3 linked regions of the Homo sapiens genome follow. The protein of the gene in region 1 purifies or fractionates together with the protein of each later gene. This does not show direct contact. Each region holds a gene or a part of one and is shown in the gene's direction. Other genes may lie near its edges.

Region 1 (3,345 bases):
TACTCTGCTCGACTCTTGGTAACATGAAATTCTGAATGTTACTTTATCATGATTGCACTGCAACTTTTTCCTTAAAATAACTGCTTTTGTAAGAACGGTGATATTGGAGTGATTAGTATAAATTCAATGGAATTTGAGAAGCAATGGCAGCGGGATAATTTAGAGTCACTGATATTACGAGAGGGGTCTTTTTGTAAACCTCCTTTTCAATGTCAAAGCGCCAATTTATAAAACGCTGCAGATGTAGAGGTTATGTGCAACTGATCTGTCCAGTTTGTGTATGAAATGGATTTGATAAAGTTTTTGCTAGTTATTTACTACATTTTGGGATTAATAAGTGATTTATATGCATATTTTTCTGTAAATCTACAGTTTTTTGTACAAGATATTCTACAAGTTATGAAGCTAAGGGAAGAAAATGCCAAAGATACCTCTAGTTATGTTGAACACAGCCAGCACAGTTTCGACATGTCAAGGAAGAGCTGTTTCAGTAAAGAATGAAGTGAAAACACTTATTTAGGAAAATGTTTCTCAACAATAAAATGTATAGTTGTTTCTCTCTTGGTAGAGTTGGCGACCGGTTCTTTCGAATTTTGTATTTATTTATTTATTTATTTTTGAGACAGAGTTTCGCTCTTGTTGCCCAGGGTGGAGTACAATGGCACGATCTGGGCTCACCACAACCTCCGCCTCCCGGGTTCAAGCGATTCTCCTGCCTCAGCCTCCCGAGTAGCTGGGATTACAGAGGTGCACCACCACGCCCGGCTAATTTTTGTATTTTTAGTAGAGATGGGGTTTCACCATGTTGGTCAGGCTGGTGTTGAACTCCTAACCTCAGGTGATCCACCCACCTTGGCCTCCCAAAGTGCTGGGATTACAGGCGTGAGCCACTGCGCCCGGCCAGATTTTGTGTATTTCTTATAGCCCTTTACTTCACTGCGCCACTGCCTGGTGTAGACATCACATATCGGAGCTAATACACGACACTGGCAACAAGGCTGAATCCTTGAACTGTTGTCGCCTGTTGAGAAAGGATTCCTTTTCCGGAACAGAAGTGCAGAGGAGGAGAGAGCGGAGAGTTAAAAGCTGGCACCCAGGCATGTGCCTGTCTGAGAAATCAGAGCCGTGCTCCTGAGCCTCGGTGAGGAGCTCCGAGGGGCTGTCAGGAATTCCGCATGAAGATGTAGCCCCTGACCCCGACTGCCTCAGAGCAGGGCTGACCGCAAAGACCTCCAGGGCCGCTCTCTTCCCTGGTCACACTGTTGAACGTTTCTCTGTGGCTGGGGGTCGCAAATGAGGGACTAAACCAAAAAAACGAAGCGAGAAAATACCCAGATGTTCCTAGTTCCTGCTGATGATCTGTAGATTCTTAGAAACTTAAGGGACCCAGCTGGGTGTGATGGCTCACACCTGTAATCCCAGCACTTCAGGAGGCCGAGGCAGCCGGATCAGAGGTCAGGAGTTCAAGACCAGTCTGGCCAACGTGATGAAACCCCGTCTCTAATAAAATTACAAAAATTGGCTTGGCATGGCAGCGCACACCTGTAATCCCAGCTACTCAGGAGGCTGAAGCAGGAGAATCACTTGAACCTGGGAGGCAGGGGTTGCAGTGAGCCGAGATCGTACCACTGCACCCCAGCCTGGGCGACAAGTGAAACTCCATCTAAAAAAAAAAAAAAAAAAGAAATTTAAGGGACCCTAGAATCAGGGGCAAAGCCTGTATTCAGAGATGGTGGAACCGAGGCCCAGACAGGAGAGAGGAGCACTGGTCCCTGCGGGTGGACCCAGGCTTGGGGGTGTCTGGCCACCTGGGCACGGCAGCCACGGGGACAAAGTCCACGGGGAGGCAGGGGTGTGGTCTGTGGGCAGAAGGTGAACCCTGAGGGGACAGTGTCTGGAGAGGGTGGCCAGCCTCGTGCAGGCACGCTGCAAAGACCTGTGCACCCTTCTCTCTGCTGTGCCACAGGTGGGGTGAGAACGACAGGGCCGACCTCCCAGCTGCAAACACAAGGACACTGAGATGCACAGAAAGGAGAGTCCACGTTGAAGAAACCCACGTTGAGGGGCCTCTTCTCCCTCCGTTCCCAGCTCGCTGATGGTGAAGGGTAAGGAAATGGATCCTCCCATTGCAACATTAAACCAGGCCAAACCTGTATTTTTCTCTTCCTTCCTTTTTCTTGTTTTGTAATTGATGTCTCCTCGGGACTACTGATAATGTCCTAGAAAGAATAAAATAAAGTTTCCCAAGGCTTTGTGACTCAGAGCTCTTTGGAGGTGTTCACCGAATGCACGGGCCGCCCGGAGGCCTTGGCCCTCCAGGGAAACACCACCAGAAGTCCCCAGAAGCGGAACATGTAGCAAGGAGGCTCCCCGAGATCTCCCAGAGGGAGCACAGCCCTGCCAAGTTATTGGTTTTGGACTTCCGGCTTCCAGAGCTACGAGAAAATAAATATTTGTTATTTAAGTCACCAGGTTTGTGGCGATTGTTACGGCAGCCTCAGGAAACTCCTACAAGGAAGTGAGTTACGCTCACGGCAGAAAGTGCTACAGCAAACCAAGGCAGAACAAAAACAGACGAAACCTAATACAGACCGGACTAAGTAGAAGACTGTGTGTTTGGGTGGTGAATATACAAAAAACATAAATATAAATTAAACCTTAGAGAAACTTTGTCATTTTCTTGTCATGTTCAGAGGTGTGGCCTGTTGCTTTAGATCTACAGATTCTTACACACTTTCTTCTCTTAAGAAAGGCTGGCACCTGCCTTTTAAAACCACTGTCCTGGCAGGGCGCGGTGGCTCATGTCTGTAATCCTAACACTTTGGGAGGCTGAGGCAGGCGGATTGCCTGAGCTTAGGAGTTCAAGACCAGCCTGGGCAACATGATGAAACCCCGTCTCTACTAAAAATACAAACCACTAGCCGGGCATGGTGGTGCACGTCTATAGTCCCAGCTACTAAGGAGGCTGAGGCATGAAAATTGCTTGGACCTGGGAGGTGGAGGTTGCAGTCAGCTGAGATTGCACCACTGCACTCCAGCCTGAGTGACAGAGTGAGGCTCCATCTCAAATAAAAATAAAACCACTGTCCCTACCCTGCCGCAGTGCTGAACTCGAGCTGATACTGGTTTTTCTCCTCTACATTCCCATGATGACAGCAAACCCCGCTGGAGCACAGAGGCCCTGAGCCACTGTGGAGAGGGATTCCAAACTCCACCTAGTCCCAAAGCAGTTCTGTTGCTCCAGCCTTCACCCTCTTCTAGGTGAGGTGACCGGCTACTTCCCAGCAGCCCAGAGGTGCTGTCAAGGCTGTTAGCCAAAGGCCACCGTGAACGCCCCTGACTTGC
Region 2 (3,500 bases), on another chromosome or scaffold:
TTGATGAGCAGCTGGTAAACTTGGAGCACATATAAGACAATCAAAGGAAGTCTCCATATAAACTTCTCCATGCAAGGAAAGATGGTTTTTCCATTTGCCCTTTTCTGAGCACTTTAACTTCCTCATTACATGTTCCAAATTGTTTCAGAGACTATATAAACCATATGTTTGTTAAACGATAGAGACAAACATGGGGAAGTCTGATTAGCATCAGCTTCCCTCAGGAAGGGGGTTTCTTTCCCAACCCTGTTTAGCCTGCTCCATACTTATTGGACATGGGGTAAATAAGCAGAGATGGGAAACGGGCTTTAAACAGCTGCACCTGGCTATAGAGTTTCTGCTCCTCTTTCTACTGAAGCACTACTGTTAAATGGAATTGTTTCTTTTTATAGTAGATTTCCTAAAAGAGCAGTAAGGAAGGTGTAAAGACCTACATTATTTATTGCATAATGCAGAAGTTTACTGGCCTAGACGAAGTAATGATATTGGATATTGGGTGATAGTAAATTACTTTAAAAACAAACAAAAAGGCCAACATGTTTCCTGCATTTTGTTTTGGACCCAGAAGTCCAGTGGGCCAAGTTCCTTGTTCAGGCATATTCAATGACACAACTATGCAGATGTGTGGAAATAAACACTTGAGGTGAAATCATATAGCTGTGATTAGGGCAGCCACAGTTTATCATTCAAACTGGACATTTGAGAGGACTACAGGCATAAACTGAGCCCAGCAGCCATCCTGGGTCTTAATCAGTGGCATTGTAGTTGTCATTGCTTAAGAGAACAATTAATAAACATTTTAAAAAAGTATCTACTTCTGTCTTTATCCCCCAAAGACAAGAAATTAAAGCATTTATGACTGAAAATTGAAAAAGAAGCTGGCTGGGTGTGGTGGATCAGGCCTGTAATCCCAGCACTTTGGGAGGCCGATTACTTGAGGTCAAGAGTTCCAGACCAGCATGGCCAACATGGTGAAACCCTGTCTCTACTAAAAATACAAAAATTAACCAGGCATGGTGGTGCATGCCTGTAATCCCAGCTACACGGGAGGCTGAGGCAGGAGAATCACTTAAACCTGGCAGGCGGAGGTTGCAGTGAGCTGAGAGTGCACCACTGCACTCCAGCCTGGGTGACAGAGTGAGACTCCGTCACACACACACACACACACACACACACACACACACTTAACTAGTTTATTCATATTAGCTTATATTCATTTTCTGTGAACCCTTGGTTTTGAATTCTATTGGGATGACTTGATAGGTGAAACCACTTTATGTTGACAACATTTTCGAATTTGAGTCATCTCAAATGATGACTTTATAGCATATTCATTTCTTTGACTTTTATTTCTTTGGAAATACCTACAACGCCTACACACATGTCATTGTTTAGGGCCTTACCCCATGTTCACAATATTAGGTTGCTTCCATTTCTCTTTCTGAAGCAGAATTGTTTTTAAACAGAAACAGGTGCCTTTGACTAACAGGTTTTTTAACTTGTAAATTGGACCAAAAGAGTAATCATAAGGGGCAGAGAGAAAATAGTAACAAAGAAGCCTCAGTTCATCCTCTTTTTCTCTTGTTTTTGATGCTGTTGTTGTTGAGGTTTTGTTATGTTTGCTGTTTTATCCTGGTTTTGGTTTTTATCCTGAGTCCTATGCTGTTCAATGCATGTCTGATATAGTATCTATACAACATGATAAACTTGTTCTGTGTTGCTAAAAATTGACTGCTTTGTTTCTAGTAAACATAGTCTTTTAAAAAATGACCGTATTTGTTTGTAAAGCGTATTATTCACCTTCCTCTTTTTATAAACATCATGTCTACTTTGATAAGTCTCATTTTGGATGTGAGAAATATTTGACATATCCAAGTGTGGGTGTGCTGGTCTGTAGGCAGTCTCAGGAGAACTTTGGAGATAATCGTGCCACACAATCTTTTAATTAATACAGATTACTATCCTAGGAACAATTAGGCTTGATCAGAAGGCAATATTTTGCTTTTATAGATAACTGCATTTGCTGTTTTTTGAGGGCAGAATCTATCAAACCAAATTTTAGAAAAGATTATAAAGTTTTTCAAGGAGCATGACAAAAGAGTGGTTGACAGGTAGATGTCCATTCTGAGGAAAATAAATTCCAGGAAATCTTGAGCAAAGTGGCCTGTTCTGAAATTCCTCCTAGTGTACTGGACTAGGCACAAGGAGTTTTCTTTTCTCTAAGCTCCCCTGACATCATTCATTTGCATTTATTATTAAATGAGGTAATTATTCGATATTCCTAGCGTATATTAGAATTTATTGCATATTCATCCACTTATGTGACAGTTATTTATTGAGCACTCTCATGTTCACTCGCAAGGGTGCAGGTGCAGAGTAGAGGAAAAGCTGTATGTCACCAGGTTCGGGATTTGCCAGGCAAATACAATCAAGGAGATGAATGTGTATGCAAGATGTGATTTAACTGGGTACCAAGAAATGCAAGCTAGCTAATTTAATATGCATGAACAAGAGGACATGAGGGAATTAAGGGGGGGAGGCGGAAGGTTGTAGAGTCAATGGGTTGTAAGAACTGGTGAGTTAAATAATGGTTGGTGTTGAGGATTAGAGGAGGTGAGTTGGAAAGAAAGGCCATGCTGGTTAGAGAGTGGTATGTTTGACACTGGGATTACAGAGAGTTTGTAGTTGATGGTAATGACAAGGACTAAGGTATAACCATGGATTTGTGGCTGAAGTAGGGCAGAAAACAAGATCATCGGAGGAGAGTAAAGTCGGGGAATTGAGGGTACAGGGTAATGGAAAGATCCTTTACAGGAGACTTCAAGAAAGAAGTAGTGTTGGGGACTTGATGTAAATGACCGAGAGAGAGAGGGAGAGAGAGAGAGAGAGAGAGAGAGAGAGAGAGAGAGAGTGTGTGTGTGTGTGTGTGTGTGTGTGTGTGTGTGTGTGTGTATGAAGAAGTATTGTTGGAGAGAGACAGAGAGCCAGCAGTGAAACTCAAGGGAGAGGATCGGAAACGATCCAGGGGTCTATAGATGACTGTAGTTATGAGTTAGAGACTGATGCCATGAGCTTCAAAGCTGATGATGTTTCAGGAGGAGGAAGTGATCATTGTATAGAAGCAGGAATAAAAAGCAAGCAGGCAGAGAGCTCTCAGGAGACGCCTTGTTCTCTAGGGAGAGCCAGGTTTCTTTTAAGGCAAGAATGTGAAGGGAGGGTTCAGAGACGAGGCCAAGTATTTAGAAGACTTTACTAGTTTCTTAAATGAGGGAATTGCATTCCCAGAGGGTACAGTGGAAGGGGTTCAGGAACCAGCTGAGGAGTGGAAAAAAGTGGGGCCAGATTGGGCATGTTCACAGTGCGATGGGAATGGGAGTGCAGGAGAAAGAAGGATATTGGGGTTCCTGAGCCTAAGCAGGAATGGAGGGCATAATGAGATTAGTCCTGGTGGTTTGTGAAACAGGTGGTGAGGCTCTGAGTGTGGGACACAAGGATGGGTT
Region 3 (3,732 bases), on another chromosome or scaffold:
TTCAGATCTCCTTGAATAATCATAGAAATAAAAGGTGGTAAGAGCTTGAAGTGAGGCCAGAGGAGTGGGAATGGTGTTGGAACTGAGATCTTCAGAAGGGAGAATCATCTAGACTTGGAGATGGGTAGTGAGACACCTGACAATGATGTTTAAGTTCCCAGTATAAGGACTTGGGAGGATATACCATATACTGAGATGGGAGCAGTTTTTAGGGGTATTTTTTCTTTCTGCTGGTAAAACTATAGTAGTTCCTTCTACTTAACTTGAAATTTATTCCAATACTGTGAAACTGTGAAACTCTATTTGGCATGTGGTCAATATTTTAATCAAATAAATATAACCTTTTCCTAGACTTTTTCCCCCTAGTATTTTTGTGCAGCTCATTTTCCCTCCACCCTCTCTATTCCATAGTAAACTACAGTCAAGGAACTCTAATAGGAAAATCTCATACAACTTTATGTGTTCTACTTTGCAGGGTAGTAGATCATGCAGAAGAAAACAAGATGAACTCCAAAAACTTGGGGGTGATATTTGGACCAAGTCTCATTAGGCCAAGGCCCACAACTGCTCCTATCACCATCTCCTCCCTTGCAGAGTATTCAAATCAAGCACGCTTGGTAGAGTTTCTCATTACTTACTCACAGAAGATCTTCGATGGGTCCCTACAACCACAAGATGTTATGTGTAGCATAGGTGTTGTTGATCAAGGCTGTTTTCCAAAGCCTCTGTTATCACCAGAAGAAAGAGACATTGAACGTTCCATGAAGTCACTATTTTTTTCTTCAAAGGAAGTGAGTTTGACCTTTATAGAATTATATTAGAACTTTGTAATATTTATGTTAATAAGTTAAAGATCTTTGAACTGTTTATTTTGAGGTTATGTTTTACTTCTTCCATTTTAAAAATTATCTTGCATCAACAGGATATCCATACTTCAGAGAGTGAAAGCAAAATTTTTGAACGAGCTACATCATTTGAGGAATCAGAACGCAAGCAAAATGCGTTAGGAAAATGTGATGCATGTCTCAGTGGTGAGTAGCCATGTAAAAAAAAAATATGTTTGCTGGCTTAAAATTTTACCAGTAGAACCGTGATTAAAACCAAGGTGAGGGGCAATGAGGGAAGCCAGAGAATGAAGCTTTATTAGTTAACAAATCTTGGCTAGCCATTGAGAAAGTTGCCTTTTAGTGTATCTTGCATTTAAATGAATGTCATTCTTCATAAAAGTCTTTCTTATAATAAGACATCTTGGAGTTTATAATGTTTTTTGTGTTCCTTCTGAATTTTGTTTTTGTTTTTGAGTTTTGCCATCAGCTAAAATCAAGGTAGAAATGTGTTGAGCAATGTGATATTCGTTAGTATCTTCCAGTTCCGTAGTTCAGTGCATTGAGCTAACTGCTCATACAGAGTCAACTAGACTCCTGAAATTCAAAAACTTTAGAGTCCTACTTTTTTTTTGACATGCTTTTTACCTGTGGCCTACATTTAACCTATTAAACACAGAGATGTGTATGTCTTTTTTCTTTCCTTGACTGCGATCATTTTATTCACTTATTTTCTCTTTATAATATTAGTTGCTGTCATTGCTAGTTGTTAAGCTGGTGGAAAAGCTTCCATTTGTATTGTCATTTCTACATTGTTATAGCTAAATTCCAGTTTTTTACATTGCAGCCATATATGTTAAATTTAATGTGTAATCAAGTATCAGTGATCATAGGGTCTAAAAAGGAAAGGAGGGCCGGGCATGGTGGCTCACGCCTGTAATCCCAGCACTTTGAGAGGCCAAGGCGGGCAGATCACCTGAGGTCAGGAGTTTGAGACCAGCTTGGCCAACATGGTGAAACCCCGCCTACTAAAAGTACAAAAAATTAGCCAGGTGTGGTGGTGGGCGCCTGTAATCCCAGCTACTCGGGAGGCTAAGGCAGGAGAATCACTTGAACCCGAGAAGCAGAGGTTGCAGTGAGGCGAGAACGTGCCATTGCACTCCAGCCAGGGTGACAAGAGAAACTCCATCTCAAAGAAAAAAAAAAGGAATGGAACTAACATTCACCAGGTACCTGCCTGTTCTGTGCTAAGCACTGTGCTTATTTGTTTGATTCTATTTGATCTTCATAATAGTTCTGTGCTATAAAGTAAATAGCATTATCCTCATTCAACCCATAACTAACCGTCTGAAAGAGACTAAGTAATGCCAAAGGTTGTTCTCTTAATACATTTGAACCCAGTTCTGATTACTAAACCTAACCTTTGTGGCTATCCCATGAAGCTCTTAGGAACAGTAATAATAATAAATGTCACTTTCCAGTGTTTATTACATACAAGATAATTTTAAGCACTTTTCCTAGTAGATCATTTAGATCACACAGCAACATAGATACACATAGGAGTCTTATTTCGCAGATGAAGACACATAGGACAGTGATATTGCCTAGCCCAGTGCAGAAGTGGCAGGCAGGGCTGAGCCAGGACCCAGGCAACTGTGCTTCAGAGTCTGTGCTCTTCTCCATTATGCTCTAAGTTTTTCCCTCAGAAATTTAAGAATATATGTTGGTGCCTAGAGTCCAATTGCAAGGAACCAGGTCCCTTAGAATGCTCTATAAATGTGTGGAGGACCTGGGAAAGCAAATCAAAAGAGCCTTGGGCCAGGTGTGGTGGCTCACACCTGTAATCCTGGCACTTTGGGAGTCTGAGGTGTGCGGATCTTGAAGCCAGGAGTTCAGGACCAGCCTGGCCAACATGGTGAAACCCTGTCTCTATTAAAAATACAAAAATTATCTGGGCATGGTAGCAGGCACCTGTAATCTCAGCTACTCAGGAGGGTGAGGCAAGAGAATCACCTGAACCCAGGAGGCAGAGGTTGCAGTGAGCCAAGATAATGCCACTGCACTCCAGCCTGGGTGACAGAGTGAGACTCTGTCTCAAAAAACAAAAACAAAACAAAACAATAAAAGAGCCTTGGAACCCAGGGAAGAGAGGCCAGCAGTCCCAGGTGTGGAAGAAGTTCAGATGAGACGATGACCAAAAAGTGACTCTGGTGGGCACCTGTCTGCAAACCACTGCCTAAGAGATGTGGGTGAAGGACTGGGTGGCAGAGAAAGGATTGCATGCTGTGCTTGGGGCCGACTGTAGCTTAAAGTCAGGATGGCGTCAAGGCACAGAGTTGGTGGATGTGTTTCAGCAGTGAACAGAAAAGCAGGAGAATGGAGGGCTGGAACATTCCTGGAATTGGAATTTTTTAGGATAGATGCAGGAACTGAGGCTTCTAAGTGAGAAAACATGGACTGTGGGTTCGGACTATAGAAAGAAAATCCGGGAGCAGGTGGGGAAAATGGCACTTTTTAACTTAAAAGCATTCAGCCTTCATTTGACAGAATGGATTTTATGCTTTATTAGTTGATCAGATATGGAGAGCATCTAAGGCATCTAATATCATATGCTCTCACTGGGTTGAGTGTAACTGAAAAGCAGATTGAGTGAGTTGGCAAAATCCTTGGGATTCAGGGCACACTTACATCTGGTTGGTGTGTAAATTAGTGTCACTTTTCTGAGGTTAATTTTCCAATGTCTGCCTATTGAAATTGTGATAGTCTTTTGACCCAGAAAGTACTTGTTCATGCACAGCACTTAAAAAGAAGTTACTCAGCAAGTGTTTTTTTTGTGTTTTGTAGCTGTTCATGTTGATTTAAATGAGTAAAAAATTTGAACTTTTAAATTCAATATACACCTTTAATA

The links.
Region 2: the proteins of RAB40B (region 1) and ARHGEF26 purify together in Homo sapiens (affinity purification with mass spectrometry, with the first as the bait; one study listed by BioGRID). This does not show direct contact.
Region 3: the proteins of RAB40B (region 1) and ARHGAP29 purify together in Homo sapiens (affinity purification with mass spectrometry, with the first as the bait; one study listed by BioGRID). This does not show direct contact.

Annotation. Positions count from the first base shown.
Region 1 is NC_000017.11:82,654,289-82,657,633, reverse strand, and holds the end of RAB40B (ras-related protein Rab-40B), read left to right. Parts: 3' UTR 1-2,661; downstream 2,662-3,345. UniProt on the Homo sapiens protein: RAB40B small GTPase acts as substrate-recognition components of the ECS(RAB40B) E3 ubiquitin ligase complex which mediates the ubiquitination of target proteins.
Region 2 is NC_000003.12:154,236,390-154,239,889, forward strand, and holds part of ARHGEF26 (rho guanine nucleotide exchange factor 26), read left to right. Parts: intron 1-3,500. UniProt on the Homo sapiens protein: Activates RhoG GTPase by promoting the exchange of GDP by GTP. Required for the formation of membrane ruffles during macropinocytosis. Required for the formation of cup-like structures during trans-endothelial migration of leukocytes.
Region 3 is NC_000001.11:94,174,911-94,178,642, reverse strand, and holds part of ARHGAP29 (rho GTPase-activating protein 29), read left to right. Parts: intron 1-475; coding exon 476-791; intron 792-922; coding exon 923-1,031; intron 1,032-3,732. UniProt on the Homo sapiens protein: GTPase activator for the Rho-type GTPases by converting them to an inactive GDP-bound state. Has strong activity toward RHOA, and weaker activity toward RAC1 and CDC42. May act as a specific effector of RAP2A to regulate Rho.